2 separate regions of the Homo sapiens genome follow, and region 2 is linked to region 1. Evidence: fine-mapped expression QTL. A gene starts in region 1. The other region holds a variant in brackets. All regions are shown on one strand. Distances are between the middles of the regions.

Evidence for each region.
Region 2: its variant is fine-mapped to the expression of F11 in prefrontal cortex (CommonMind, PIP 0.93).

Annotation. Positions count from the first base shown.
Region 1 is chr4:186,256,262-186,271,560 of GRCh38, reverse strand. It overlaps F11 (coagulation factor XI), which reads right to left and starts at 5,372. Exons shown (of 15, transcript NM_000128.4): 1 at 5,266-5,372; 2 at 4,370-4,425. The coding sequence starts at 4,424. It overlaps KLKB1 (kallikrein B1), which reads right to left. Exons shown (of 15, transcript NM_000892.5): 14 at 14,196-14,335; 15 at 13,090-13,540. The coding sequence ends at 13,349. RefSeq lists an enhancer at 6,242-7,013.
Region 2 is chr4:186,233,692-186,249,931 of GRCh38, reverse strand. It overlaps KLKB1 (kallikrein B1), which reads right to left. Exons shown (of 15, transcript NM_000892.5): 4 at 15,874-15,980; 5 at 12,992-13,151; 6 at 11,567-11,676. It overlaps LOC124900873 (a long non-coding RNA gene), which reads right to left and starts at 11,527. Exons shown (of 2, transcript XR_007058497.1): 1 at 10,887-11,527; 2 at 9,438-10,767. RefSeq lists enhancers at 1-122, 5,577-6,104, 6,105-6,633, 8,222-8,827. The variant A/T (reference allele first, on the strand shown) is at 7,672.

The DNA.
Region 1 (15,299 bases):
CATCTAGTTAGGTGGTAATCTCATAAAGGCAAGGCAAGTAGCTCTACTTACCAGGAAATACGCCTGAATTTGGAAATCAAGGCAATAAACACTTTTATGTGAGTTTATTGAATGAACAGCCTCAGGTGGAAACGAAAATCACAAAATGGTACGTTGGCTTCAATGGAATTGTGCTTATGAGTGATTGTCTTGGAGACAAGGAGTGCTTTGAGGGTAATTGAATCATTTCAAGGATCTTTACTGGCAAAAGCTGCTGCTTTTTAGGATCTCATCCAGGTCTGGAACGAGCCTTCTGCTTTTTCCTTTCCTAATTGCGTCTCTTTATCCAAACCCTGTGCTTATTTGAAACAAAGACTTCAGAGTGATCACTTTCTGACAGCATCTGATGGCTCGGGGGTGTGATAACACACATCCTCACCCCATTGAGAATAATTTGGAAACCCCACCGTGGAAACCCCACCTTTTGGTGGAAAGCAATCTTGCTACATTAAAATAGTACTTTTAAGAAGAATATTAACTGATGAATCAAATAAATGTTCTATATTTAATAATGCGGAGTGGGCGCAGTGGCTCATGCGTGTAATCCCAGCACTTTGGGAGGCTAAGGTAGGTAGATTGCTTGAGCTGAGGAGTTCAAGACCAGCCTGGGCAACATGGCAAGACCCTGTCTCTATAAAAAATACAAAAAAAAAAAAAAATACTAGCTGGGCATGGTTGTTTCCACCTGTAATCCCAGCTACTCGGGAGGCTGAGGTAGGAGGATCTCCTGAGCCTGGGAGTTTGAGGCTGCAGTGAGCTGTGATTTTACCACTGCAATCCAGCCTGGGCGACAGAGCAAGACCCAGTTTCTCTCTCACTCTCTCTCATGTGCACATGCGCACACACGTGTTCTGTGTGTGTGTGTGTGTGTGCATCATGCACTAATTTCCTTAGAATATATCCCCCTCCTAATTGGATTATTTAATTTTACAAGACAAATTGATTTTCAATATGCCACTAGATGGGAGGATGGGAGTGGGGTGAGCGTTGAAAAATTACCTGTTGGAGGCTGTGTTCACTACTTGGGTGATGGGTACACCAAAAGCCGGCACTTCACCGCCGCATAATATATGTATGTAAGAAATCTGCACTTACACCCCCTAAACATATAAACATTTAAAAATTTTTGGAAAACAATTTTGGAAAAAAACTCTGCACACGTTGAGTACAGATACAATTTTTTAAAAAATATTTCACGTCAAGGTTGTTTGAGTGCATGGATGTGGAACACATGGAACACATGCTGCTTCTAGTGTCAGTAAAAACTAGTTCATCTGCTTTTGCGAACGAGCAAGTGCTTGCTGTTGTATATTGACGTTGTATCGAGACTTCTTACTCATTTAATTAATTGGCTCAAATAATTTATGTGATGGTTAATTTTGGATTTTTCTAGGTACTCAATCACATCATCTGTGAAAAACGAGAGCTTATGTTCCTCCTAATCGTTTTCCTTTTATTTCCCTTCCTTACCGCACCAACGAGTACCTCCAGTCAAGAGTAAATGGAAATAATGGGAAGTATTCTTGTCCTATTCTCAATCCCTTGGGAAAGCTTTCAATATTCCGCTATTACGTATTATGTTTCTTGAAGATTTTTGGTTTGGATTTTTGTTTGCTTTTGTTTAAAATATCGTTTAATAGCTGATGAAAGTTCTCTTCCATTTCCAGTTTATTTAAAGTTTTGATCATTAATAGAATTTTAGCAAGCATTTTTCGGCACATATTAACATTTAAAATTATTTTTATTTTTTATTATGACAGATAGCATACCATGTGCCATGTAGCCATCTTGAGTGTACAGTTCTGTGGCACTAAGGGTATTTACATTGCTGTGCAACCATCAGCACCATCCACCTCCAGAACTTTTCAACTTCGCCAGCTGATGCTCTGTGCCCATTAAACACCAACCCTCAGCCCTTCCCCTGGCCCCTCGGCCCCTGGCAACCTCTGTTCTAATTTCCGTCTTGATGAAATTGACTACCCTAAGTACCTCCTATCAGTGAGATCCCACAGTATTTGTTCTTTTGTGACTGGCTTATTTCACTTAGCGTAATGTCCTCAAGGTTCATCCATGTCATAGCATGTGTCAGAATTTCCTTTCTTTTTAGGGTTGAGTAATATTCCTTTGTATGTATGTACCACACTTTATCCAGTCACCTGTTGATAAACACATGGGCTGCTTCCACCTTTGGGTTAGTGTGAATAATGCTGCTATGAGATGGGTGTACAAGTATATCTGTGTGAGTTCCTGCTTTCCCTTCTTTTTTTTCGGTATGTACCCCGAAGTCACACATCTATTGATTTTTGAATGTTAAATCAACTTTTCATTCCTGGAATAAACCCAACTTTGTCACAATATCACAATGTAATCATCCTTTAATTTTTTTAACAATCTACTGGGTTAAGTTGGATAATATTTTGTTTAGGACATTTGTACATATGTTCATAAGATAAAAGACCTGTGACTTTTTTTCCTCAGAATTTTCCTATCAGATTTTGGTGTCAAGATTACCCTGACCTTATAAAATGGGCTAGAAAGGGGTTATGTTGACCTCTCAAATATGTGTGTCTTCCATTTAATTAATTTCTGCGATTTCTTCTTTCTGCCTTCTAATTTCTTAGCACTTAAGTTGCTATTCTCTATCTTCTTGTCATCTTATATCATTAATTTTTCCCTTTTCTGTATTCTAATGTATACATGTAAATCTATACATTTGATCTCAACACTGATTCGGTTACATCTCAAAGTTTTGATATACTGTACTTTCATTATTGTACAATTCCTTTTCTAATTACCATTGTGATTTCATCTCTGATTCATCTTAATCTAAAAAGGTATAAATACTCAATTTTCAAACATTTGCAGATTTTCAATTCCCTTTTTATTATTATTCTAGCTCCCATTCACGGTGATTATAAATACTCAATTTTCAAACGTTTGCAGATTTTCAATTCCCTTTTTATTATTATTCTAGCTCCCATTCACGGTGATTGAATAACATGATCAGTATAATTTTAACCCCTTAAAATTTGTTGAGCCTTGTTTCAGAGGCTTGTGTGTGGTCAATATTTGTAAATGTTCCATGTGCATGTATAAAGGACCTAAATATGTACACTATCATTCCTTGATATCTATGAGGGATTGGCTGCCAGACCTCCTGCAGATACCAAAATCCATGAACGCTCAAGTCCCTGATAGAAAATGGCATAGTATTTACATATAACCTACTCACAGCCTCCTGTGTACTTTAAATCATCTCTAGATTACTTATAATACCTAGTACAATGTAAATACTATGCAAATTGTTGTTATACTGTGTTGTTTCGGGAATAATGACAAGAAAAAACTCTGCACATGTTGAGTGCAGATATAATTTTTTTTAAAAAATTTCACTTCAATGTTGTTTAAATCCATGGATGTGGAACCCCTGATTCAGGGTCAATTGTTTATGTAGTTATTGGGTCCAGTGTTCAAAATATATCAAATTATTTAGCGCTGACATATTTATCAATGAAATAACAATACAATTTCCAGATAATTATAACAAAGGAATATTATAACCTGAGCAGTAGTCTTGTCACAGAGAAAATTGAAATTATGAGCTGTGTAATTTAATATATTAAGTGGAATTTACTTTTAATATCTTCACCTAGGTTTGCCTTTTTTCACATAGGCCAGCAAAAAGAATTTACTATGCTTAAAATGCTAGCAATAGTATCAGAAATTAAATATAACATGTAGACATAAGCTATTTTTCTAAAGGAATGCTTCAGCTTTCATTTTAAATAAAGAATGGTCATGGAACTAAACAATACCTGTACTGATATATCCTACTTAATATTGGCTAAGTAATTTATAAACAAATTTAGCAGATGTGACATAGGGTGGAGAATTAACAGGGTAGTTAAATTATTGAAATGCATAAACTGTGTATGAATAGTTACATAACATTTTTCAGTACAAAATTCCTATTTTATGTGTGTGTGTATGTTCCATTGAACTGACTGCTTTATGAAAAACCAACTAATTAGTGAGGCAAATCAAGATTTCTTCTTTTTAATATTGCTTTTAAATATCATTTAAATGAATGATGTATGTAGGCATGGATGTAGATATGGTACACATATAGACACAGATTCCTACCAGTACAAACAATTTTTTCACCTCAATTCCTACCCTGCTTTGAAAACCTCTGGAGCCTCAGGCAGGAAGTTAATAAAAACATTTTATTTCCTTCCCGGCATAAATGGTGTGGGATTCTCCCACATGTGTGGAGATTGCAGTGTGATTTCCCTCTCCCAGCCCATAGTTAAGATAACACTCTACTTACCACCAGAAACTGAAGTAAATAAAATGAAATGTACCACTTGATATAAGAAAATCATCCTACAATGAGAAAAAGGTGCATGCTTTTAGAACATAAAATGTAAATTTATAATTAGTTTACTGACACTAAGACTTACAAGAAATAGGGAGAGAGGGGAGTAGTTAATTCAATAGCATTCACAGTGTTCTCATTATAATGTTGAATTTTCTTTCCCAATCCTGGAGCATTCCTTAGTGTGACTGTGTGTGGCATTCAACTCTTACAGCTCTGCAGAAGCCGGAACCCACAGGGAAGCAGCGCTCTCCCCTCCTCCCTCCTTCCCCGCCGGCCCCGCCGCTCTCTGTGTTCAGATCCTTCTCATGGCCACCATCTGACCGCTCTCCCCACCCCAATTTTTCATCTTTGTTTCCTTTCCCAATTTTTTTCCTTTCTTTCTTTCCTTGAGGCCTCTCCCTATATCTTTCAAAGAGCTATGAATGATTTCCTACTTAGAAAATTTTCTATTTAAAAAAGTCTGTGGCTGATACATTAATCGATTGTCTTGGTCACCTATAAATCTATTTATCTCCAGTAAGCATTAAACAGACTGCTCTAGGAAAAACGGAGTCATCAGTGAGACAAATCAAGACTTCTGATTTTTCAGTACTGCATTTGGATGTCTTTTTAACTCGTAAAACGCTTGTTACTGAGTAGACACTGTTACTCTTCTGTTGTTCCACATTTCCTCTCAGATTAGTTATGGATATTAGCGGAACATCTCTACAAAGCTAAATCAGACACATTTTAAAAATCAATCATTCTCTATTGTAAAGTGTTTTTAAATTCCTATGATTTAAAAAAAGCATTTCAAGGCGTATTTGCTTGAGAGGAATGTTAAATAGTAAGTTCTGAAACTGTACCTGAAAAGACCTTGTTGGCTTACTTGCTGCAATTCTTAATAAGGGTGCTTTTCTTCCTCCAAAATGGTCTTCATCCTCCTCTGAATGAGCTTGTGTAGGAAATGGTCACTTCACTTTAATATTTACTTGTACTAGTTCTCAATGTTATGTAACATTCTCTCTCAGTACAGCATATTTGTGAAAGTCGTTAAAATCTTAGTATGTCAGAAATATACCTTGAGAGAATTGCTTGCTTTCTCAATACACTGAATTTATTTTTTTAATTTTATTTCGTATTCAAACAAGTGACATACACAGGGACAGATGTAGAACTTGATTTTGCCTGTGTGCCTGCTAGCCAAAGCTGCATTTAACCACACTTTCACCTGTCAGCTGTTAACCATTAATTCTAGCTGACCTTGAATCTCAAAGTCTAAAAAGAAAACATGGAAAGTCTAATGGATTCATTGATTTGCAATATAATGGAGGGAGGAGACTTTGGCTGCTGGGGGAGAGCGGACGGATGGGAAGCAAAGTACAGACAGCTCCTAAGAGCCTGGCTCTTGCCCAGTCAGTTTCCCTTCAGGTGACGCTGCCTCTCAGAGGCCTAAGCAGATAGGATTCCTCCTAAGGCCAAGCTTTTTTTTTTTTTATTCTTACTTGTGAACACTAAAAGTCTATTTTTTAAAACAGAAAAATAAGCTATTTCAGCTTGCTTGCTTCTTACTTTCTTTCTTTTCTTTCTTTCTTCTTTCTTTCTTTCTTTTCTTTCTTTCTTTCTTTCTCTCTTTCTTTCTTTCTTTTGAGACAGAGTCTCTCGTCGCACAGGCTGGAGTGCAATGACGCGATCTCAGCTCACTGCAACCTCCGCCTTCCAGGTTCAAGTGATTGTCCTGCCTCCGCCTCCGGAGTAGCTGGGACTACAGGCCCGCGCCACCACGCCCAGCTTATTTTTTTTTCTTTTTTCTTTTCTTTTTTTGTATTTTTAGTAGAGACAGGGTTTCACCATGCTGGTCAGACTGGTCTCAAACTCCTGATCTCCAGTGATCCGCCAGCCTCAGCCTCCCAAAATGCTGGGATGACAGGCATGAGCCACCACGCCCGGCTTCTTTTAGCTTTCTTTAGGTCCTGGGACACAGACCCGAATGGAGAGCTAGGAAGTGACATGTCTAGCAGCTGCATGACTGTCAACGAAAGCACAGCACGTCACATCCCTGAAGGAAAGGGTGGTTTTGTCCTGGAGGGAGTCTTCCCACTGGACAGTGGGAAGTGGGACACTGGACAGTGGTAGGACCTGGCGTTTATAGGCAGGAAAGTTTGTGAAAAAATTCTGGGGTGTTTCACATAATTATATTTCCATGAAGGCCTTCCCTTTGGCCTTGAAGAAGGTCTGAAAGCCTATGGAGGGCATGTTCATCCATGCCAACTGCTACCCAGACCTACTCACTGGCTGACGAGTCATGTGACTTGAGCGGAACCAGCCTGTGCACAGTCCCCAGCCACCTGCAGGTCCTTGGCTTCCGTTTCCTCATTTAGAACACAAGGCACTAACTAGTGCTGAGGGTTTCTGTGCGGTCCCCTAAAAAACCTCACAACACGAACACAAAACAGTTTTCAATATGCCTGATTTGAATACATTTTGGAGAAAGATACGTTTATGGTTCAGAGAAGGCTCTCAATTTTTCATAGAAAAGCAAAATACGATCTTGTGTTTATACATGGAATCATAATTTAAAAAACATATTTGGAAGACCGGGGAGAAATGACAGGGAATTAAGAGAATGTGAACTGAGAACAGATCTTTTTGTAAAGTGCTGAAGAACTAGGGTGATGTTCTATCTGGAAGGCATTTACTCAGATATTTTTATTTGATCTATTGCCAGTGCATTTGACTTATCCTGGCATAAAGAGTTCCTAGCTGTTTTCTTGAGTTTCCCGTTTAAAGTACATTCCAGCTACCCAAAAAGTGCATATTTATGATGCATTGCCTTTTATGAGGCTCAAACATAGAATGGCAAATTCGTGCCAAGAATGGCTTTCATGGAAAATGGATACGTGAGATTATATGAGGTCCTTATATCCTTGTATTGTTTACTCCATGGAACCTCATCTCTCTTCTTAAGCCCCAATAAAAAGAAGATAAGGATAACTCTCCAACCCTATTGAGAGAAACAGAAAGGCTCTAAATAAGAGAAATGCTTCACTGGAAAACCAAATAATATTTTCCTAAGTTTGATTTAGCTAGTTAGTGAAATCTTTAAGGTCTTTGAAATAGTATCAGGATTCAAAAAAATTTTGTCTATTCAAATAAAAGTAGAATAATTTTTTTTCAGACAAGGTCTCACTCCTGTCGCCCAGACGAGAGTACAGTGGTGTGATCTCCACTCAACGCAGCCACCAGGTGATCCTCCCACCTCAGCCTCCTGAATAGCTAGGAATACAGCCGCATGTCACTCCGCATGGCTAATTGTTGTATTTTTTGTAGAGACAGGGTTTTGCTGTGTTCCCCAAGCTGGTCTGGAATGCCTGGGCACAAGCGATCCACCTGCCTTGGCCTCCCAAGTGCTGGAATTACAGGCATGAGCCACCGTGCCCAGCCTAGAATAAAAGTCTTGACTACATAGAAACTCTTTGAGATTAAATAGACCTTTCTTTTAAACTGACCATAGATATCCTTAAAAAATTATTTTCAACTAATGCATTGCAGTTTAAAATTCTGATATCAACTACTTTTTTCAATTTTTTTTCAATGAAATGAAATGTTTTTGAATATTCGAAGACTGATGAAAATGAGGAATAACTAGACAAAGTCTTAGGAAGAATATAGAAGTTAGTCTGCAGAGACCCAAGTACAAGTCAGAAGTTAGGATTCTAAATCAAAAAGTATCTGAGACAGGTCCCAATCAATTTAGAAAGTTTATTTTGCCAAGGATAAGGATGTACCTATGACACAGCCTCATGAGGTCCTGATGACATGTGTCCAAGGTGGTCAGGGCCCAAGCTGATTTTGTACATTTTAGGGAGATATAAGACATCAATCAATCTATGCAAGATGTACATTGGTTTGGTCCTAAAAGGTGGGACAACTCGAAGAAGGGAAGGGGGCTTCCAGGTCATAGGTAGATAAGAGACAAACAGAAGCATTTTTTCGAGTTTCCAATTAGCCTTTCACCAAATACGCAATTTACAAGAATAGTCACTCATGCCTTAGTGTGGCCCAGTGAAACAATATGGCAAACGAGGCAATCAGATACGCACCTGTCTCATGTCAGCAGAGGGGTGACTCTGACTTCTGCCTGTCCTTTTTCCACAAGGAATTTCCTCATGGGCAAATTGTGAGGAATGTAGCTTTTTAAAACCTTTTTAAAGCTTAAAAAAGGTTTTTTATAGCTTAAGAAAGCTATTTTATTTAGGAATAGAATGGGAGGAAGGTTTGCCCAATGCAGTTCCCAGCTTTACTTTTCCATGTGGCTTAGTGATTTTGGGGGTCCCGAGGTTTGTTTTCTTTCCAATGGATCATAGGTGGGAGATGTATTGGACATTTGGACATATTGTGACCTAAAGCCTTCTGCTTGGGACAGGAATGTCCACAACGGCATTAGTTGACTGAGACCCCTTCTCAGGCATGGCCATAATCAACTCTCAGAGCTCCTTCTCTTGTCTTTCAGAACTTGCTTTGAAAATGGACACAATAAAAAAGAAGGAAATCATTCCATTTGCAGCAATGTGGATGGAACTGGAGGTCATTATGTTAAGTAAAGTAAGCCAAGCACAGAAAGACAAACATTGCATGATCCCACGAAAGATGATTTCATGGCCGTAGAGAGTATATGGTGGTTACGAGAGGCTGGGAAGGGTGTGTGTGGGGGGGTGGTGGTGAGGACGAAGAGAGGTTGGTGAAGGGGTACAACCACAGAGTTAGATAGAAGGAATGCTTTCTAATGTTTGACAGAAGAGTAGGGTGACTGCAGTCAACAACAAGGTATTATAGTTTTCTAAATAGCTAGAAAAGGACTTGAAATGTACTCAACACATAGAAATGGTTGGGTGATGGGTATGCCAACATCCTGACTTGATCATTACACATTCTATGCACATAACACAATTTCACATGTGCCCCACAAATATGTACAAATAGAATGTATCAAAAAGTAAAAAATAAAGGAAGAGAAAGGGCACAGCCCGCCATGTCCTACAACCCCTTTCTTGCTGTTCCTGAAATGTCCTCTTTTGTTTTTCTTTTTCTTTTTTTTTTTTTTTTTTTTTGAGACGGAGTCTCGCTCTGTCGCCCAGGCTGGAGTGCAGTGGTGTGATCTCGGCTCACTGCAAGCTCCACCTCCCGGGTTCACGCCATTCTCCTGCCTCAACCTCCCGAGTAGCTGGGACTGCAGGTGCCTGCCACCACGCCCGGCTAATTTTTTTTTTTTGTATTTTAAGTAGAGACGGGGTTTCACCGTGTTAGCCAGGATAGTCTCGATCTCCTGATCTCGCGATCCGCCCACCTCAGCCTCCCAAAGTGCTGGGATTCCAGGCGTGAGCCACCGCGCCCGGCCGAAATGTCCTCTTTTCATTACAAGGTTTTAATGCTGACATGAGATCAGGCTTTCCCAACCCTGGCATTATTGATATTGGGGCAGGATAACTCTCTCTTGCGAGGGGCTGTCCCACACACTGCAGGATGTTTAGCTGCATCCCTGGCCTCTACCCACTACAGCCAGTTGCATACCCTCTCCCATTAGGACAACCAAAAGTGTCTCTAGACGTTGCCGAATGTTTCCTGAGGTGAAGGGAGGACAAAATCGCTCCGGGCAGAGAAACACCAGTGTCAGTTGATAATGAAAATAACAAATGGTGGTTATAAATGCTCTGTCATCTTTCATCCTTCTCCTAGTGAGAAGCAACCGGATATCAGTGAGAGGACATTGCCTGGCATAGGAATGCTGAGCTTTGTTCCAGCTCTGTCCTTGCCAGTGACCTTGAGCTAATCATTTCACCTCTTCAGTCTCCATTGCCTTTATTTTTGTAATAAAGGTGTATCATCATCATTAGCCGTTTACTGGATGCCCATGATATGCACTATGAATGAGAGAGCCTCCCTAGAAGCTGCTCACAGTCAAGTAAAGTGACAGACATAAGCAACAATTGAAAGGAAAAGTTCCAAGTTTACGTGGGGGGTTCCCATGCCTTGGCAGGGACTGAGACAGATGTTGGAGCCCTTGGCTGACCTTGGAGCCAGGTGGCTTGTGCATGTGCTTGCATGCCACGTGTACACTGCCGCCACAGGAGGGCAAGGCCAGCTTGCAGGATTGACACTGCCAGCAGCCTTTGTGAAGTAGAACTGCCAGTGGCCCACGCCTCCTCCCGTCACGCTTCCTCATGGGAGTGAAGGCATCCCAGCCTCGCATTTTCCTAGCCCATGTCACACTTTTTAGTCCCACGAGGCTAGACCTGTGTGAAGGGCTCCTCAGTTACCCCTGTATATGAGCACACAGTGAGTCACCAAGACACCAGCCCAGTCCTACTGGGCTTTGATTGACCACTTTAAAATGACAATGTATGCCTCGGGAAAGTTCCATATTTCAAAACTCTCCTCTGTTTTGCCAAACTAGGTCATTCCCTGACTAACAGAGGCCAAAGGTTTACCCTGCAAGCATTCCAAAGTCCTGTTCCAACACCCCATGATCAATACTCAAAGACTGAGATAAAAGTTTCATTGCAAACCATTTTTTCCCTTTTAAACATAAAAAAACATCCACATGAACAAAGACTAATGTCTTCATCGCATGCAAAGGCAAAATTTAAATAGTGCATTTTTAAAATCGTTTCATGGAATCTAGCCAGATTTTACAAAAGCCATTCAATTCTGAAGTAAATGTTTAACTCTTCAGTTTCCTGCTATCTGGTTTGTGGATAGCCCAGACCTCATATTTTCCTTCACCCTCTCCACCTTTAGCTCCTCCTACCACCCGGTGTGTCTCTGAGCAGGGGTTCCCAACCCCCGGGGCCCAGAACAGTACCTGGTCCATGGCCTGTTAGCAGCCAGGCCGCACAGCAGGAGGTGAGTGGCAGGCCAGCAAGCATAACCGCCTGAGCTCTGCCTCCTGCCAGATCCGCAGCAGCATGAGACTCTCATAGGAGCTCAAACCCTGTTATGAACTGCACATGTGAGGGATCTAGGCTCCTTATGAGAATCTAATGCCTGATGATCTGTCACTGTCTCCCATCACCCTCAGATGGGACTGTCTAGTTGCAGGAAAACAAGCTCAGAGCTCCCACTGATTCTACATTATGGTGAGTTGCATAATTATTTCATTATATATTACAATGTAGTAATAATAGAAATAAAGTGCATAATAAATGTCATGCACTTGAATCATTCCAGAATCATCCCCCACCACCATGCTGGTCCATGGAAAAACTGTCTTCCACAAAACTGGTCCCTGGTGCCAAAAAGGTTGGGGACCTCTGTCTTGAGCATTGAAGGAAAAACCCAAACTCTTTCAGAAAACTTTTTTCTGTTTTTCTACTTAACTTACATAAGATTTTGTAAATCGCCAATTCTGTGTAAATGTTGTTCAGTTTAACTGAACTGAATCAAGCGAGCTGGTATCAGTTACGGTGAGCCTCGGCATGTGAGGAATTTGTGTGGCATAGGACATCTATCACCCATTCCAAAGGCTACCATAAATTTACAAGTCTGAATTTTATGAAATAATTTATACCTAACAGGGCTGGGTGTGGTGGCTCAAGCCTGTAATCCCAGCACTTTGGGAGGCCGAGGCGGGTGGATCACAAGGTCAGCAGATCGAGACCATTCTGGCTAACATGGTGAAACCCGTCTCTACTAAAAATACAAAAAATTAGCCAAGCACAGTGGCGGGTGCCTGTAGTCCCAGCTACTCCGGAGGCTGAGGCAGGAGAATGGCGTGAACCCGGGAGGCAGAGATTGCAGTGAGCCAAGATTGCACCACTGCACTCCAGCCTGGGCAACAGAGCAAGACTCCGTCTCAGTACTACTACTACTACTACTACTACTAATAATAATAATAATAATAATTTATACCTAACAATGCTTCCTTTTTTTGAGACAGTCTCACTCTGTTGCCCAGGCTGGAATGCAGTGATGCAGTGGTGCCATCTCAGCTCACTGCAGCCACGACATCCCCGGGCTCAAGCGGTCCTCCTGCCTCAGCTTCTGGGGGAGCTGGGATTACAGGTGCGCACCACCATGCCCAGCTAATTTTTGTGGAGATGGGGTTTCGTCACATTGGCCAGGCTAGTCTCGAACTCCTATGCTCAAGTGATCCACCTGCCTTGATCTCCTAAACTGTTGGAATTACAGGCGTGAGCCACCACGCCAGGCCTAAAAATGCTCCTTGAATTACTATTGCAATAGCCCATATCCACTGAGCCTCCAGGGCTAATGCCCCTTGCAAAGCAGATTCCTTGCCTGCCATGAAGGCTGTGCAATGCTGCAGCCCCTCGAGCTCCTCAGCACGCGCAGCCTGGACCCTCCTAGCCATGCCCTGGTAGCAAAGTTAGGAGGCCAAGAGGCAAAGGTGCCCATGGGTTCAGGTAACCCATCTCTTTCTTATAAAAGTGGGTGTTCTCCCTTCCTCTCGGCAGAACAAAACCCAAGCCCGCTAGCTCTTTGCCACACGTGAAGCAGGCAATAGTGGGTTTCAGTGGCCGACCAGGTGCAGCACGGAGAGGAAATTACATCTTTGAGATATACTGAGTTCCAGAGGAAGCAGTGCAATTAGAGGGATCCCAGGAACTGTGCTGGAACCTCAACCACTTACTTTCAGTTCTGTTTCACAACCAGAAGAAAACACTTGCTAATCGTGATCTTTCACCATTTTATTTCACAACACACAGTCATGGAGATCTCAGTTGCGACCTCGCATTGTCAGCCCCTGGTTACGGCGTGCTGAAAGCGGGCTTCAGCCAGACATTGTCCTCAGCAGCTCTGAGTGCACTGTGTTTTTCGTCCTTAGGATGCAAAGAAGATGCCACTCTCCATGCTTTGCAGATGAGGACCCCCCAGGCTCAGAATTTGACTTGAACTCAGGTTGTAAAAATTGCCTAGACTCTGGACTGCTTCTCATGCTGGTGACTGCATCTGAGCTTTTCCATCACTGCTCTGTGTTTTCTCTAAAATCCAGTCCATGTACTCAGCGACTTTGGTGTAGACACCAGGTTGCTCCCTGCGGGCACAGCCTTCACCCCAGCTGGTGATGCCCACCAAACGCCACATTCCATTGTGTTTGCAAACTAAGGGACCACCTGAATCTCCCTGAGTCACAGTGGAAAAATAAAATAGTAGAAAGTTACGACAATGGGATTCAAATAAGTGACTGCCTCTAAAGTTCTGTAGTCCACTACACAGCAACACACACACACAGATACTTTCATATTTTTTTGTAGAGATGGGTTTCATCACATTGCCCAGACTGGTCTCAAATTCCTAGGCTCAAGTGATCCACCTGCATTGGCCTCCCAAAGTGCTGTGTGTGTGCAAGACCTTGCTTGCCAGACACACACACACACACACACACACACACACACACACTCACTCTTTCTTAAAGTTCTCCAAGTATCTCATGTGCCTGCATTTTTCGTATCCCCTTTTCTATCTGAAATAAATCTAACAAAGAAATCTTGATATCATCATCCCAATGATGAAGTCTAATGTTTTTATATTCTAGCACAATTATTGCATGTATATTTGCCCCTCTTAAATAGCACATGCATAGATTGTGACATATATCATAAATAATATAAATATATATTATGTATATTCAATTTGTTAAAAGTTGCTTATCAATTTATCAGATCATTTGTCTCTGAATTTTTTTAAAAACTATGATTGAATTATGCTATTGGAAAATATATTTTGAAATGAATTTTCTCAAGCAGCCTATTGTGTTTTTCATAATCTCATGAGTTACCTTACAAGCATCTTTTCCCCCTTCTTTATAGCCAGCACAGACCATCCGTTGGGTTATTTTATAATCTTGATATCTTTTCTGGCATTCTTCATTTGTTACCAAAGGAATATTTACCTTTTGTAGAATATTTTGGATTTCACCTGTGAGTAACCAATATATAACCTCAGAGGGAAGTTAATAATAATAACTTAAATAATAAATAATAATATTGGGAATATTATTATTCCCACAATAAATAATAAATATGGAAATAAGTTTTAAAGTGAATCAGAGCAGTGTATTTTTCATAAGGACCTTATCTTTGAATACAAATAGACAGTAAAAATTGGGAAGGTAGTGTTACACACACACACACACACACACACAGAGAGAGAGAGACAGAGAGAGGAAGAGGGAGAGAGACGGCACCCTGTACTGTCCTCTTATTGCCTACGTGGTGTTGGGACAAGCCCAGCACCCTGGGCTGACCAGAGACCTTGCTTCCATGTTTTCTGCCATCCCCTCATCTCAGTAGCAGCCCCCCAGAAATCCCATTTTATATTTATCACCTACAACAATCCAAAGCCTGGAAGTTCTCACTTTTCATTTTTTTGCTTTATATATTCAAAATTATAATTTACAACTATATCGTTTCTGAAAAGCCCTCCGAGCTTTGGCAACAGAGGGGTCTTTTGTTTTTGAATAAATGCAGGCCAGCATCTCTCATGGAGAACAATGTTGGGAGCTTTCATGGCTTAGTGAAGATTACTTTAAATTTCTTCTTGTCTCAGATTACCAATAAAAAATCTAAAAATGTGAATTACTTGAACAAAAGACTGAATCGGGAAAGATGGAGACAGTTTGGCAAGCTACCTTCTTCTGTAAAGAATGACACAAATATTATTCTCCATAGTGAGACGACACACCTGCCTGTGCTCCCGGCCATTAGCATCAAGGGAGAACATGGTTTTGGGAGACGGGAACGCTACTAACACTGAGGAGCGGGTGGTCTTGCACGGGCTTGTCAGCCCTAGAAGGGCCCAATCTGCTTCATGCAAAGTCAAGCAACTGATCTTTATAATGAAGTAAGATGCTTAAAAGTCTCCCTAAAATTTTTTTTCAAGC
Region 2 (16,240 bases), 22 kb after region 1:
CTGAGGCCTTAGGAATGTAAGGGTTTTTTTGTTGTATTTTCCTGAATATTATAAAAAATTCTTTAATAAGAAGTGATTAACAAAAATGCCTTGTGCCTATTAAAATTAGAACAGGAGACAATCCACTTTTATTATCATTACATTAATATGATCTTATATCTTAGTTTTGTTTTAGTTGTGTACATATCGTTTATGTAGTTTACTAAATTTGATAACACATAATTCCATTGATACTCATTGGTCTACAGATTCAATGCACTCTCTATCAAAATCCTGCTGCTTTTCTATTGCAGAAATTGACAACCATCCTAAAATTCATATGGAAATGCAAAAGATCCGGAATAACCAAATTAATCTTGAAAAAGGACAAAATAAAAGCACTCAGACTGTCTGAGTTCAAAACTTACTGCAAAGTTATGGTAATCAAGACTGTGTGTAACTGGCATTAGGATAGGCATATATAGGTCAACAGGATAGAACTGATGGTCCAAAAATAAACTCTTACATTTATAGACAATTGATTTTGAAAAGGGTTTCAAGACAATGGAATAACTGAATACCCACATGCAAGAATTAAGTTGGATTGCTACTTTACACCATATACAAAATTTAATTTAAAATGCATCAAATGCCTAAATGTAAGAGCTAAAACTATAAACCTCTAAGAACAAATCATAAGCAAAAATCTTCAAAACCATGAATTAGGTTTTGGCGTTTTAGGTAAAGCACGTGCAAGAATAAAGCCAGACTGGATTTCATCAAGTTTAAAAACTTTGGTGCTTCAAAGAACACCATCAGTAAAGTGAAAAGATGACCTGCAGATGCACAGAAAATTTTTGAAAATAATATATGTCATAAGAGTGTAGTATCCAGAGTATATAAAGAGTTCATACAACTCAACAATGAAAATAACCCAATTATTTTTAATGGCCAAAAGATTTAAACAGAGATTTTCCCAAAGAATGTATTCAAATTGAAAATGAGCACACGAAAAGATACACAACATTGTTAGTCATTAGGGAAATGCATATCAAAACCACAGTGAGACACCACTTCACACTGCCTAGAAAGGCAATAATTACAAAGACAATAACAAGTGTTGTTAAGGTTGTAGAGAGACTGAAGCCCTCAATTGTTGCTGGTAAGAATGTAACATTGTGTAGCTGCTCTCAAAAACAGTTTGGCAATTCATCAAAAAGTTAAACATGGAGTTACTCTGTGATCCAGCAATTTTAATCCTAAGTATATACATAAGAGAATTTAAAATGCATGCCTACCCAAAAACTGTTGTCCATAGCAGCATTATTCATAAGAGGCAAAAAAAAAAAAAAAAAAATCCAGAAACAACTCAAATGTTCATCAAACTAAGTATATAAACAAAATATGTTTTATTCATACAATAGAATCTTATTTAGTCCTAAATAGGAACAAAGTATTGATATATGCTAGAATACGAATGAGCCTTGAAAACACGCCAGGTGAAAAAAGCCAGATGCAAAATGTGCTGCATTGCATGATTCCATTTATGTAAAATGTCCCGAAGAGTCAAGTCCACAGACATGGAAAGTAGATTTAGTGGTTGCCAGGGGATTGGAGGAGTAGGGAATGGAGAAAGACGGCCAATGGGAAAGGAGAAAGACAGCCTTTCTTTTTTTTTTTTATTTTATTTTTATTATTTTTTTGTGAGATGGAGTCTTGCTCTGTCGCCCAGGCTGGAGTGCAGTGGCGCAATCTTGGCTCACTGCAAGCTCCGCTTCCTGGGTTCAGGCCATTCTCCTGCCTCAGCCTCCTGAGTAGCTGGGACTACAGGCATCTGCCATCATGCCCAGCTAATTTTTTTGTATCTTTAGTACAGATAGGGCTTCACCGTGTTACCCAGGATGGTTTCAATCTCCTGACCCCGTGATCCGCCCGCCTCGGCCTCCCAAAGTGCTGGGATTACAGGCGTGAGCCACCGTGCCCGGCCTGGATACAGCCTTTCTTTTGTGGTGATAAAAATGTTCTGGAACTAGACAGTGGTGATCGTTGTGCAATCAGGTGGATATACTAAAAACCACGGAGTTGTACACTTTCAAAGGGTTAATTTTATGTTATCTAAATTAGATATCAAAAATTTTAAATCTACTATGAAAAAACAATATATGCCATATTAAATACCAAGCTTGTAGAAGGGATTCATGTAAAACAGACACATTATTTATATACATAAGAATTAAATTTTCTTGGTATTTTCAGCAGTTTCATAGTGATTCTCAAACATCCTTCAAGTCTTATAAAGTGCGATTAAGCCCCATCTTTTCCAAAGTGTATGTATGATTCTAAGAACTTTACATTTATCCATGTTAAATGTCAGGCCTCTGGGCCCAAGCCTACATGCATACATCCAGATGGCCTGAAGTAACTGAAGAATGACAAAAGAAGTGAAAATGGCCGGTTCCTGCCTTAACTGATGACGTTACCTTGTGAAATTCCTTCTCCTGGCTCAGAAGCTCCCCCACTGAGCACCTTGTGACCCCCCACCCCTGCCCGCCAGAGAACAACCCCCTTTGACTGTAATTTTCCACTACCTACCCAAATCCTATAAAACGTCCCCACCCCTATCTCCCTTCACTGACTCTCTTTTTGGACTCAGCCCGCCTGCACCCAGGTGATTAAAAAGCTTTCTTGCTCACACAAAGCCTGTTTGGTGGTCTCTTCGCATGGACACACGTGATATTTGGTGCTGTGACTCAGATCAGGGGACCTCCCTTGGGAAATCAATCCCCTGTCCCCCTGCTCTTTGCTCCATGAGAAAGATCCACCCATGACCTCTGGTCCTCAGACCAACAAGCCCAAGGAACATCTCACCGATTTTAAATTGGGTAAGCAGCCTCTTTTTACTCTCTTATCCAACCTCTCTCCCTATCCCTCAACCTCTTTTTCCTTTCAATCTTGGCGCCATCCTTCAATCTCTCCCTTCTCTTAATTTCAATTCCTTTCATTTTCTGGTAGAGACAGAGGAGACGCGTTTTATCCATGAACCCAAAACTCTGGCACTGGTCATGGACTTGGGAAGATAGTCTTTCCTTGCTGTTTAATCACTGCAGGGACACCTGCTTGATTATTCACCCACGTTTCAGAGGTATCTGATCACCGCGCGAATGCCTGCCTTGATCCTTCACCCTTAGTGGCAAGAACCACTTTCCTGGGGGCAAGCACCCCCCCACCCCTTCTCTCCATGTCTCTACCCTCTCTTTTCTCTGGGCTTGCCTCCTTCACTATAGGCAACTTTCCACCCTCCATTCCTCCTTCTTCTCCCTTAGCCTATGTTCTCAAGAACTTAAAACCTCTTCAACTCACACCTGACCTAAAACCTAAATGCCTTATTTTCTTCTGCAATGCTGCTTAACCCCAATACAAACTCGACAATGGTTCCAAATAGCCAGAAAACGGCACTTTCGATTTTTCCATCCTACAAGATCTAGATAATTCTTGTCATAAAATGGGCAAACGGTCTGAGGTGCCTGACGTCCAGGCATTCTTTTACACATTGGTCCCTCCCTAGTCTCTGTTCCCAATGCAACTTGTCCCAAATCTTCCTTCTTTCCCTCCCATCTGTCCCCTCAATCCCAACCCATCTGTCCTCTCAATCCCAACCCCAAGTGTTGCTGAGTCTTTCCAATCCTCCTTTTCTATGGACCCATCTGACCTCTCCCCTCCTCCCCAGGCTGCTCCTTGCCAGGCCAAGCCAGATCCCAATTCTTCCTCAGCCTCTGCTCCTCCACCCTATAATCCTTCTATCACCTCCCCTCCTCACACCCGGTCCAGCTTACAGTTTCATTCCACGACTAGCCCTCCCCCACCTGCCCAACAATTTCCTCTTAAAGAGGTGGTTGGAGCTAAAGGCATAGTCAAGATTAATGTTCCTTTTTATTTATCCGACCTCTCCCAAATCAGTTAGCGTTTAGGCTCTTTTTCATCAAATATGAAAAACCCAGCCCAGTTCATGGCCCGTTTGGCAGCAACCCTGAGACGCTTTACAGCCCTAGACCCAGAAGGGTCAGAAGGCCTCTTATTCTCAATATGCATTTTATCACCCAGTCAGCTCCTGACATTAAAAAAAAAAAACCAAAAAACAAACAAAAAAAAACTCCAAAAATTAGATTCCAGCCCTCAAACCCCACAAGAGGACTTAATTAACCTCGCCTTCAAGATGTACAATAATAGAGGCAGCCAAGTAGCAATGTATTTCTGAGTTGCGATTCCTTGCCTCTGCTGTGAGACAAAACCCAGCCACATCTCCAGCACACACAAAAACTTCAAAATGCCTAAACTGCAGTGGTCAAGCATTCCTACAGGACCTCCTCCATCAGGATCTTGTTTCAAGTGCCAGAAATCTGGCCAATGGGCCAAGGAATGCCCGCAGCCTGGGATTCCTCCTAAGCTGTGTCTCATCTGTGTGGGACCCCACTAGAAATCGGACTGTCTAACTGGCCTGGCTGCCACTCCCAGAGCCCCTGGAACTCTGGCCCAAGGCTCTCTGACTGACTGCTTCCCAGATCTTCTTGGCTTAGCGGCTGAAGACTGACGCTGCCCGATCACCTTAGAAGCCTCCTGGACCATCACAGATGCTTTAGGTAACTCTTACAGTGGAGGGTAAATCCATCCCCTTCTTAATTAATACAGAGGCTACCCACTCCACATTACGTTCTTTTCAAGGGCCTGTTTCCCTTGCCTCCATAACTGTTGTAGGTATTGACCGCCAGGCTTCTAAACCTCTTAAAACTCCCCAACTCTGGTGCCAACTTGGACAACATTCTTTTATGCACTCCTTTTTAGTTATCACCACCTGCCCAGCTCCCTTACTAGGTCGAGGCATTTTAACTCAATTATCCGCTTCCCTGACTGTTCTTAGGCCACAGCCACACCTCAATGCCACCCTTTCCCCAGTTCAAAGCCTCCTTCACATCCTCCCCTTGTGTGTCCCCACCTTAATCCACAAGTATAGGACACCTCTGCTCCCTCCTTGGCAACCTATCGTGCACCCCTTACCATCCCATTAAAACCTAATCACACTTACCCCGCTCAATGCCAATATCCCATCCCACAGCATGCTTTAAAAGGATTAAAGCCTGTTATCACTCACCTGTTACAGCGTGGCCTTTTGAAGCCTATAAACTCTCCTTACAATTCCCCCATTTTACCTGTCCAAAAACCGGACAAGCCTTACAGGTTAGTTCAGGATCTGTGCCTCATTAACCAAATTGTCTTGCCTATTCACCCCATGGTACCAAAGCCATATACTCTCCTATCCTCAATACCTCCCTCCACAACCCATTATTCTGTTCTGGATCTCAAACATGCTTTCTTTACTATTCCTTTGCACCCTTCATCCCAGCCTCTCTTCGCTTTCACTTGGACTGACCCTGACACCCGTCAGCCTCAGCAACTTACTTGGGCTGTACTGCCACAAGGCTTCGAGGACAGCCCCCATTACTTCAGTCAAGCCCAAATTTCTTCCTCATCCATTACCTATCTCGGCATAATTCTTCATGAAAACACATGTGCTCTCCCTGCTGATTGTGTCTGGCTCATCTCCCAAACCCCAACCCCTTCTACAAAACAACTCCTTTTCTTCCTAGGTATGGTTAAGTACTTCCGCCTTTGGATACTAAGTTTTACCATCCTGACTAAACCATTATATAAACTCACAAAAGCAAAGCTAGCTGACCCCAAAGATCCTAAATCCTTTAGCCACTCCTCTTGCCATTCCTTAAAAACAGCCCTAGAAACTGCTCCCACACTAGCTCTCCCTAACTCATCCCAACCCTTTTCATTACACACAGCCGAAGTGCAGGGCTGCGCAGTCAAAATTCTTACACAAGAGCCAGGACCACGCCCTGTAGCCTTTCTGTTCAAACAACTTGACCTTACTGTTTTAGGCTGGCCCCCACCCCCATGACTGTATCTCTCTGATCCACCTGACATCCACTCCATTTCCCCATATTTCCTTCTTTCCTGTTCCTTACCCTGATCACACTTGGTTTATTGATGGCAGTTCCACCAGGCCTAATCACCACTCACCAGCAAAGGCAGGCTATGCTGTAGTATCTTCCACATCTATCACTGAGGCTACTGCTCTGCCCCGCTCCACTACCTCTCAGCAAGCTGAACTCATTGCCTTAACTCAGGCCCTCACTCTTGCAAAGGGACTACGTGTCAATATTTATACTGACTCTAAATATGCCTTCCATATTCTGCACCACCATGCGGTTATATGGGCTGAAGGAGGTTTCCTCACTACACAAGGGTTCTCCATCTTAATGCCTCTTTAATAAAAACTCCTCTCAAGGCCACTTTACTTCCAAAGGAAGCTGAAGCCATTCACTGCAAGGGCCACCAAAAGGCATCAGATCCCACTGCTCAGGACAATGCCTATGCTGATAAGGTAGCTAAAAAAGCAGCGAGCATTCCAACTTCTATCCCTCACAGCCAGTTTTTTTCTTCCTCATCTGTCACTCCCATCTACTCCCCCATTGAAACTTCCACCTATCAATCTCTTCCCACACAAGGCAAATAATTCTTGGACCAAGGAAAATATCTCCTCCAGCCTCACAGGCCCATTCTATTCTGTCATCATTTCATAAACTCTTCCATGTAAGTTACAAGCCACTAACCCACCTCTTAAAACCTCACTTTTCCTTTCCGTCGTAAAAATCTATCCTCAAAAAATAACTGCTCAGTGTTCCATCTGCTACTCCACTCCTCCTCAGGGATTGCTCAGGCCCCCTCCCTTCCCTACACATCAAGCTCGGGGATTTGCCCCCGCCCAGGACTGGCAGATTGACTTTACTCACATACCCGGAGTCAGGAAACTAAAATACCTCTTGGTCTGGGTAGACACTTTCACTGGATGGGTAGAGGCCTTTCCCACAGGGTCTGAGAAGGCCACCGTGGTCATTTCTTCCCTTCTGTCAGACATAATTCCTCAGTTTGGCCTTTCCATCTCTATACAATCCGATAACAGACCGGCCTTTATTAGTCAAATCACCCAAGCAGTTTCTCAGGCTCTTGGTATTCAGTAAAACCTTCATACCCCTCACCATCCTCAATCTTCAGGAAAGGTAGAACAGACTAATGGTCTTTTAAAAACACACCTCACCAAGCTCAGCCTCCAACTTAAAAAGGAGGACTCTGTCAAGGATAGAGCCCAAAAACTCACCAACCAAGCAAGTAATTACACTGAACCCCCTTAGGCACTCTCTAATTAGATGTCCTGGGTCCTCCCAATTCTTAGTCCTTTAACACCTGTTTTTCTCCTTCTCTTATTCAGACCTTGTGTCTTCCATTTAGTTTCTCATTTCACACAAAACCATATCCAGGCCATCACCAATCATTCTATATGACAAATGCTGCTTCTAACAACCCCACAATATCACCCCTTACCATAAAATATTCCTTCAGCTTCATCTCTCCCACTGTAGGTTCCCACGCCGCCCCTAATCCCGCTCGAAGCAGCCCTGAGAAACATCGCCCATTATCTCTCCATACCACCCCCAAAAACTTTCGCCACCCCAACACTTTACCACTATTTCGTTTTCTTTTTCTTATTAATATAAGAAGACAGGAATGTCAGGCCTCTGGGCCCAGGCCTGCACGTATACATCTAGATGACCTGAAGTAACTGAAGAA[A/T]GACAAAAGAAGTGAAAATGGCCGGTTCCTGCCTTAACTGATGACGTTACCTTGTGAAATTCCTTCTCCTGGCTCAGAAGCTCCCCCACTGAGCACCTTGTGACCCCCCACCGCTGCCCGCCAGAGAACAACCCCCTTTGACTGTAATTTTCCACTACCTACCCAAATCCTATAAAACGTCCCCACCCCATCTCCCTTCACTGACTCTCTTTTCGGACTCAGCCTGCCTGCACCCAGGTGATTAAAAAGCTTTCTTGCTCACACAAAGCCTGTTTAGTGGTCTCTTCACACGGACGCACATGACATTAAATATATGCAATACTTCAGCCCAATGTCCTAACCTGTTAAAATTGTTTTTACTTTGCTTTTCCTATCTAATATGTTGGGCACTATTTATAGATATTTTGGCCAAGCAACCAGTTGATTTCTAGGACATTCTCTATTTCAAGTATGCCATCTGGTTAGCCTCCGAACAGAAACCATGATGTTGCTTCCCCTAATTGCAATTTTATCAACCAGCTTCGTTTATCAGACTTTCTTCCCCAGAGGTGATAAAAATAAAAAAACCTTTTTTTTCCAATTTATGTTTTCCTCCTTTTGGCTTGAAAATATGTGTACCATCTCAATTGATAAATTAATAAGTCACATGGTAGGAATTTTCCATGTCAGAGTTGCAAATGGTTTTGTTAAATTAACTGAGGAAACGTGGTTAGCCTGACATCTCTCAAGATCTATGCAGGAAGATGGACCACAAGAGAAGGAAATCTGTAAATATAATGAATTCATATGTGTTGAGAGGCAGGAGGCTTTAAAACACCATTAAATCCATTAAAAAAACAAAAGGTGGAGTGAGCACTGTGAAATGTGTGTGACCCAAGGGTCGAGTTCTGGTTCAGCTCATCAGCTGTGTTGCCCCCGGAGCACCTTCACTTCTACCCTCCTTCCAGGAGCCTTAGGGGTTTTGTTTGTAAAATTAGGAAAATCCTTGGTGAAACCAAGGACAAATCTGTAGTGATAACTACAGATCATCCCTAACTTATGAATCTCATTTGGGCAGTTAGGCCAGGAGACAGCCCTACTCTAGGTTTAGGAGGCATGTGGCTACTGGGTGTTCCCTGAGGAACGGGGACCACGTACTCAGTGAAAAGCCACGCCCTTAGCAGCTCAAAACACCACCTGAAACAGCCATATTTTTATCAGTCTGTAAAGGCCATTTGATCCGATTAAATCACATGTGAACTCACTGCAATTTAACAAGAAAGCAAGTACACAGATGAGCCATCCAGGGTGCTCTCCCAGGTGTGGACAGCAGCTGTGACAGCCCAGAGCCACAGCACGAGCTTGCCTGTTCCCTGGGTAAGTGCAGCAAATCCTTCCAGCAACAGGGCTGGGTACAGAATGGAGCATGTTTGCATCGAGTCCTGCCTCCTGGCAGCCTTCAAAAACTCTCCCAGAAAAAAATAATATGAACGTTAAAATTAAATCACCAGTACACGTGAACCTGGCACACACCATGGAGAAGGTGTGCTGTCGCAAAGAGGAGACAGGAAAATAGCCACCTTGTAACCAACCTTCCCAATCTTCCACAGGGAAATCCTAGCCCAGCACCCAATACAGGGCCAGGCACAGAGCCAGCACCCAGTACTGCGGAAAACTGGCCGTAAGGGATTTGCTTTTAGTAACATCTTGTCATTAACATCCTGACATGCTAAATGAGGTGGAATGTCATGGCAATTTTCTGGATAATTCCATTGAAATTACCTTTATGTGTGAAACGACAGAGTTTTATTTCCCTACCCCTGGTAGAGTCATTTCACTAGATAGGGACACAACCAAGGAATGACCTTACAGTTTTGCTACAACATCACTGTACCTATAACTATAACAATATCACTGTCCTATAACTATTACAACGTCACTGTACCTATAACTGTAACAATATCACTGTCCTATAACTATATCACTGTCCTATAACTATAACAATATCACTGTACCTATATCACTGTAACTACATCACTGTCCTATAACTATAACAATATCACTGTCCTATAACTATAACAATATCACTGTACCTTTAACTATAACTATACCACGGTAACTATAAGAATATCACTGTCCTATAACTATAACAGTATCACTGTCCTATATCACTGTACCTATAACTCTAACAGTATCACTGTACTAGTTTCCTATAACTATAACAATATCACTGTCCTACAACTATAACAGTATCACTGTACTAGTTTCCTATAACTATAACAATATCACTGTCCTATATCACTGTACCTATAACTCTAACAGTATCACTGTACTAGTTTCCTATAACTATAACAATATCACTGTACCTATAACTATAACAGTATCACCGTACTAGTTTCCTATAACTATAACAATATCACTGTCCTATATCACTGTCCTATAACTATAACAGTATCACTGTACTAGTTTCCTATAACTATAACAATATCACTGTCCTATATCACTGTACCTATAACTCTAACAGTATCACTGTACTAGTTTCCTATAACTATAACAATATCACTGTCCTATAACTATAACAGTATCACTGTACTAGTTTCCTATAACTATAACAGTATCACTGTCCTATATCACTGTACCTATAACTCTAACAGTATCACTGTACTAGTTTCCTATAACTATAACAGTATCACTGTCCTATGTCACTGTACCTATAACTCTAACAGTATCACTGTACTAGTTTCCTATAACAGTATCACTGTCCTATATCACTGTACCTATAACAGTATCACTGTACTAGTTTCCTATAACTATAACAATATCACTGTACCTATAACTCTAACAGTATCACTGTACTAGTTTCCTATAACTATAACAATATCACTGTCCTATATCACTGTACCTATAACTCTAACAGTATCACTGTACTAGTTTCCTATAACTATAACAATATCACTGTCCTATATCACTGTCCTATAACTATAACAGTATCACTGTACTAGTTTTCTATAACTATAACAGTATCACTGTCCTATATCACTCTACCTATAACTCTAACAGTATCACTGTACTAGTTTCCTATAACTATAACAGTATCACTGTCCTATGTCACTGTACCTATAACTCTAACAGTATCACTGTACTAGTTTCCTATAACAGTATCACTGTCCTATATCACTGTACCTGTAACAGTATCACTGTACTAGTTTCCTATAACTATAACAATATCACTGTACCTATAACTCTAACAGTATCACTGTACTAGTTTCCTATAACTATAACAATATCACTGTCCTATATCACTGTCCTATAACTCTAACAGTATCACTGTACTAGTTTCCTATAACTATAACAGTATCACTGTCCTATATCACTGTCCTATAACTCTAACAGTATCACTGTACTAGTTTCCTATAACTGCTGCTCTAGGGGCATAACCACAAACTTAGTGGTTAAAAACAACACAAATTAATTATCTTACTGTTCTAGAGATTGGGTCTTACTGGGCTAAAATCAAGACATCAGCAGGGCTTCTTCCTCCAGGACGCTCCACAGGGAAACTCTTTCCTCGCCCTTTTCAACTTCTAGAGGCCGCCTGCATTCCTTGGCTCACGGACCTTCATCTTCAAAGCCAGCAGTGTAATACCTTCAAACCTCTCTCTCTGGCTCTGAGCCTTCCGCCTCTCTCTTTTTCTTATGAGCCTTGTGAGCACTCAACCCTGTGAGTACATTGGGCCCATTCAGAAAATCCAGAGTAAACTCCCCATCTCGAAGCCCGTAACTGCATGCCATTGACAGAAACGCTTTTGCCAGCTATGGGAACACACGCACAGGTCCCAGGGCTCAGCACAGGGACGTCTCTGGGGGCTCCTATTCCACCTACCACAATCACAAAGTGAAGTAGTCCTACAATTACCAATTTCTGAAAGGGCACAGGGCTTCAGTGAGAATCCAGATTCCACGTTACTCAGCACCTTTATAGCGGTAGGTGTTCCTCCGGGACTGTACTTTAATAGGCAATTGTTCCTGAATGGGAAGAAAAGAGGTTACTTTGCTTTCTGCACTTTGAGGGGCAGGGAGCAGTGCAGGTAACAGTTAGTATTAAAATGCACAGTGGAAAAACAATGACCCTGATAATGAGTGGGTTAGGGGTCTGCATTATTAACCTAATGGACATCCTTCCCCTCGCAAAGGGGTAAAGGAAAAGTTAGGGTGAGAATGAGGCAGGAGACTCCGTGACACTAAACCCTCATTCTATAAGCAAGGCCTATGTGTGGGGCAAACGGAACTTCAGGAAAAATGACACCAAAATTCGCTTCAGGAAAGCGAAAAATGACACAGACTTCAGAAAATGACTTCAGAAAAAATGACACCAAAATTTTGCTTCAGGAAAAAATGACACCAAAATTGAGTAGAGCATGGAGCGATAGACAGTAGAGACTGGGAAGGTGACAGAGAGGTGGGAAGGGGGCGGGCGTTGAAAAATAGCTTAGTGGGTACAATGTACATGACTCCAGTGATGGATATACCAAAAGCCCAGACTTTACCACTGTAAAATACATCAAAGTAACAAAATTACACTTGTACCCCATACATCTATGCAAATAAAAATAAGATTTAAAAATAAGGAAAAAAATCACAAGTTAATATCAAATTGTGATTAGCTCTATGAATGAAATAAACAGAGCTGAGTGTGACTTAAAAGAGAATGCTCAGAAATGGGCTTTTGGAGGGGACGGTATTTGAGGAAAGACCTGCAAGAATCAGCTTTGGAGAAGTAGGGGAAGAGGATGTCAGGCTTTGAAGATGCGGTACAATTACATGCCAGGGGAAAAGAGTAGAGAAACAAATGAAATTAAATGAATTATTTAATTAAAAAATGAAGGGCGAGGCGCAGTGGCTCATGCCTGTAATCCCAGCGCTTTGGGAGGCTGAGGTGGGTGGATCACAAGATCAGGAGTTCGAGACCAGCCTGACCAACATAGTAAAACCCCGACTCTACTAAAAATACAAAAATTAGCCAGGCATGGTGGCGGACGCCTGTAATCCCAGCTACTCGGGAGGCTGAGGCAGGAGAATCGCTTGAACCCGGGAAGCGGAGGTTGTAGTGAGTCGAGATTACGCCACTGCACTCTAGCCTGGGCGACAGAGCGCGACTCCATCTCAATAAATAAATAAATAAATAAAAGATAAAAAAATAAAATAGAGTAAGTAAATGAGGAAAGTGGTTAGAATAAAAGCCCTGTTTGGTTTTTAGTTTGGGAACAAAAGAGGTTAAGAAGAATACAGTGAAATCCTGGAGGCACCAATACAAAGAACACACACCTTGAATTGTACTCACCGGTACTCTGCCTTGTGAAATGTTTGCGTGGCATATGAAAAAAACTGGCAGCGAATGTTACTGGTGCACCTTTTTTGGCATTCTTCAACACTGCTAACCTTAGACACATTAAAATTGACTCCTCTCATATCAACTCCTTTATAAATGTCTCGATGGCAAGCTGTACAAGAAAAATACATAGAGCAAATACAGTCCATTTTCTTTCTAGAGGTAGATTAGATACCCACTACCATTTGGGTTGGTAGTTTAGAATGATAATAGCCCAGTTTTGGCAACTGCTATATTAACTAAGGGATTTAAAATTTTTATTATGTACATAAATTATCGAACTCTGCTTGAAGTAAATACAATCCAATATTTTCCCTAAAGCACTAGCTTTGAAATTGGGTTACTTCACTTCTTAAACTGCAAGATGCATGCAGCAATACAGGTAAATTTCACGTTGAAATTATCAATGAGCAGTGGGAAATAAACAAGGCAATAATAATGAGGACACTGATAATGTGTGCTGAGGTTTGCATTATTAAAGAAACTGATGTGCCTTTGACCTTTCGCATTGAATGAAAGAGCTTCTCTATCTCCCAGTGTTATTTCTTTGCTTTCGACTTCTCCTGTCTGATGACAAATTGCATCCAGATCAATCATTACAAAATGTGGAGAGTTGTTGTTTACGCATGATGAAACCACTTCCATTCTTGCTTTAAAATAGTGTTAACTTCTATTTAAGCACCCTTTTCATTGAGATTTGTCTTACATGCAAAAGATACAGATAATTCTTTTCACAGACAGTGAAGCAAAATTAGGCTCTTTTTTTTTTTTTTTTTTTTGAGACGGAGTCTCGCTCTGTCGCCCAGGCTGGAGCGCAGTGGCGCGATCTCGACTCACTGCAAGCTCCGCCTCCCGGGTTCACGCCATTCTCCTGCCTCAGCCTCCCGAGTAGCTGGGACTACAGGCGCGCGCCACCACGCCCGGCTAATTTTTGTATTTTTAGTAGAGACGGGGTTTCACCGTGTCAGCCAGGATGGTCTCGATCTCCTGACCTCGTGATCCGCCCGTCTCGGCCTCCCAAAGTGCTGGGATTACAGGCGTGAGCCACCGCGCCCGGCCTCTTTTTTTTTTAAAGATTCAAATTTCTTGGTTAGACTTTTGGTTAAGGAAGTAATGTAACCAGAAGTATAAACTGTATACTTTTTTAAAGTTTTATTCCCCAAGATTATGTGGAATAAACCATAATCTACTACAGATACCTTTCCACTCCTAAGAAGTATGGTTGAAGTCATAAAACTAAATTTAAGGGTGGGAAAGACAGAAAATACACAAACTGTCAGGAAAACTATATGACAGTACGATGAGTTGGGCAGGGAGGTGGATTATTCACTGTGGTTCTTAAACACAGGAATTTGCAGACTGTGGAAACGAAGTCTCTTTCCTATTTTTCTGCATGTGAGAAAAGAACAGGCTAAGAGTTGGGATGCGACTCTTACAAATAAAAACTCTTTAAGTGTTCATACGGAAGCTCTAAATGCTTTTGACTAGAATTGTTCTTGAGTGTAGAGATTTTATGTACTTGGGAACAATTTTTCACTTTAAAAAACATTAAAAGCAAGCTAAGTGAGTAACAGTGAGTTTTAGAATACATGAACAATAACAGGAATATTGAGAAAGGCACAAATTACTTTTTCTTTAAATTTTGCTACAAGATACAACAATCAGAAATAGCACTTACTCGAATAATTTATACCAAATTGGATTAACATAAAAATTGATCTTTTAAAATAGGAAATGTACTCCACCTCACGTAGACTACACCTATTATACTGGCTAAGTCAGGCCCACATTTATAATGAAGGCATTGCCATCCTTTGATAACTGGTTAAAATGCAAACAGCAGGCTCAAAGTGTGTACGTATTGAAGAGGTGATATCAATGAGGGAGGAAAGGATGACAAATTTAAAAACATCTGAAATTTGAACCTACAAAATTAATTGTGCATAATGAAAATAAAATAGTAATGATATATAGTCATACATAGAATAACAGCAGTTATTTTAAGATTCTGACAACCCATCAGTTGAATCTTTTCAGCACTTTTCACTTTCTTATCAGTCCCAGTCATGTTTGAGAAATAGTTCATTTGTCTTAAATTTATTAGGATAGCATTGGAAACTGTTTCCCAAGACATCAGTAGCTTCAGATGTCAGAATCAAAGTTCTCTAGCATCCTAGTCCTCAAGTTTCCTTTAGGAAGTATTATTCTTAGCAAGATTTGCAGAACTCAGTTCTTCAATTTGGGCCTAGTGGTATATCACAGAGTTTCTTGATGTCAGCACTGTTGACGTTTTGGGCCAGAAAATTATTTGCTGTGGACGACTGCCCTGTGCCTTGTAGAATGTTGGTCAGCATTCAAACATTCTGGCCTCTACTTAGTAAATGCTAATAGCATCCTCCCTAGTTGTAGCCACCAAAAATGTCTCCAGACATTGTCAAATGTCCCCAGTGGAAGAGACAAAATCACTGCTGGTTGAGAATCACTGATGTAAAAATTACCCTCAAGTGAACTTGAGAGAGATGTTCCCTTGTGTTTTCTTAAAAATTCTTATCTGGAAACGAGACACAATTATTTGGATTCATTTTCTGCAAATCTTACACTTGAGCGCTAACCTCATAAATAATAGAGGCTCATTAAGTATGTGTTGATTTATAAAGACAATAGAAGTGTCCAGATGAATATGGGTCCCTCTTTTGTGTCCAGAATACTGCCCCATCTCCTATCTTTATGAGTGATGCCTTCCAAAAAGCTGTAGCAGTACAAACTTTGAGCAAAAGCTGTTCTAAGCGAGATCCAATATTAACTCAAATGTAGCTAAGAAATTCACAACTTACCACTTATTTGATGACCACATTGCTTCAAGGAATGTCCAGAAACTGCACCTGTTCGATGTACTTTTGGCAGGGTTCCTGTAACACTATCTTTCAAGAAGCAACCAAACCTATTTTAAAAGTAGCTTTACTTAGGAAGTAGAATAATAAACATACATTGAGGAAATGTCTAGCATTTTCTACACACTAACAAATAAAACCAGGAATAAGGAAAATAATATAGCTTCCCCAATACTTGCTGGAAAGAACACTCTTAGAGCTAATTTTATAACACCCCATAATATCTAACTCCATCACTGCGTTTTCTTTACACTCACATTTTTTAAGTACAGGAAATCAACCATATTAAAGAGTTAATGATTTTTCCTGT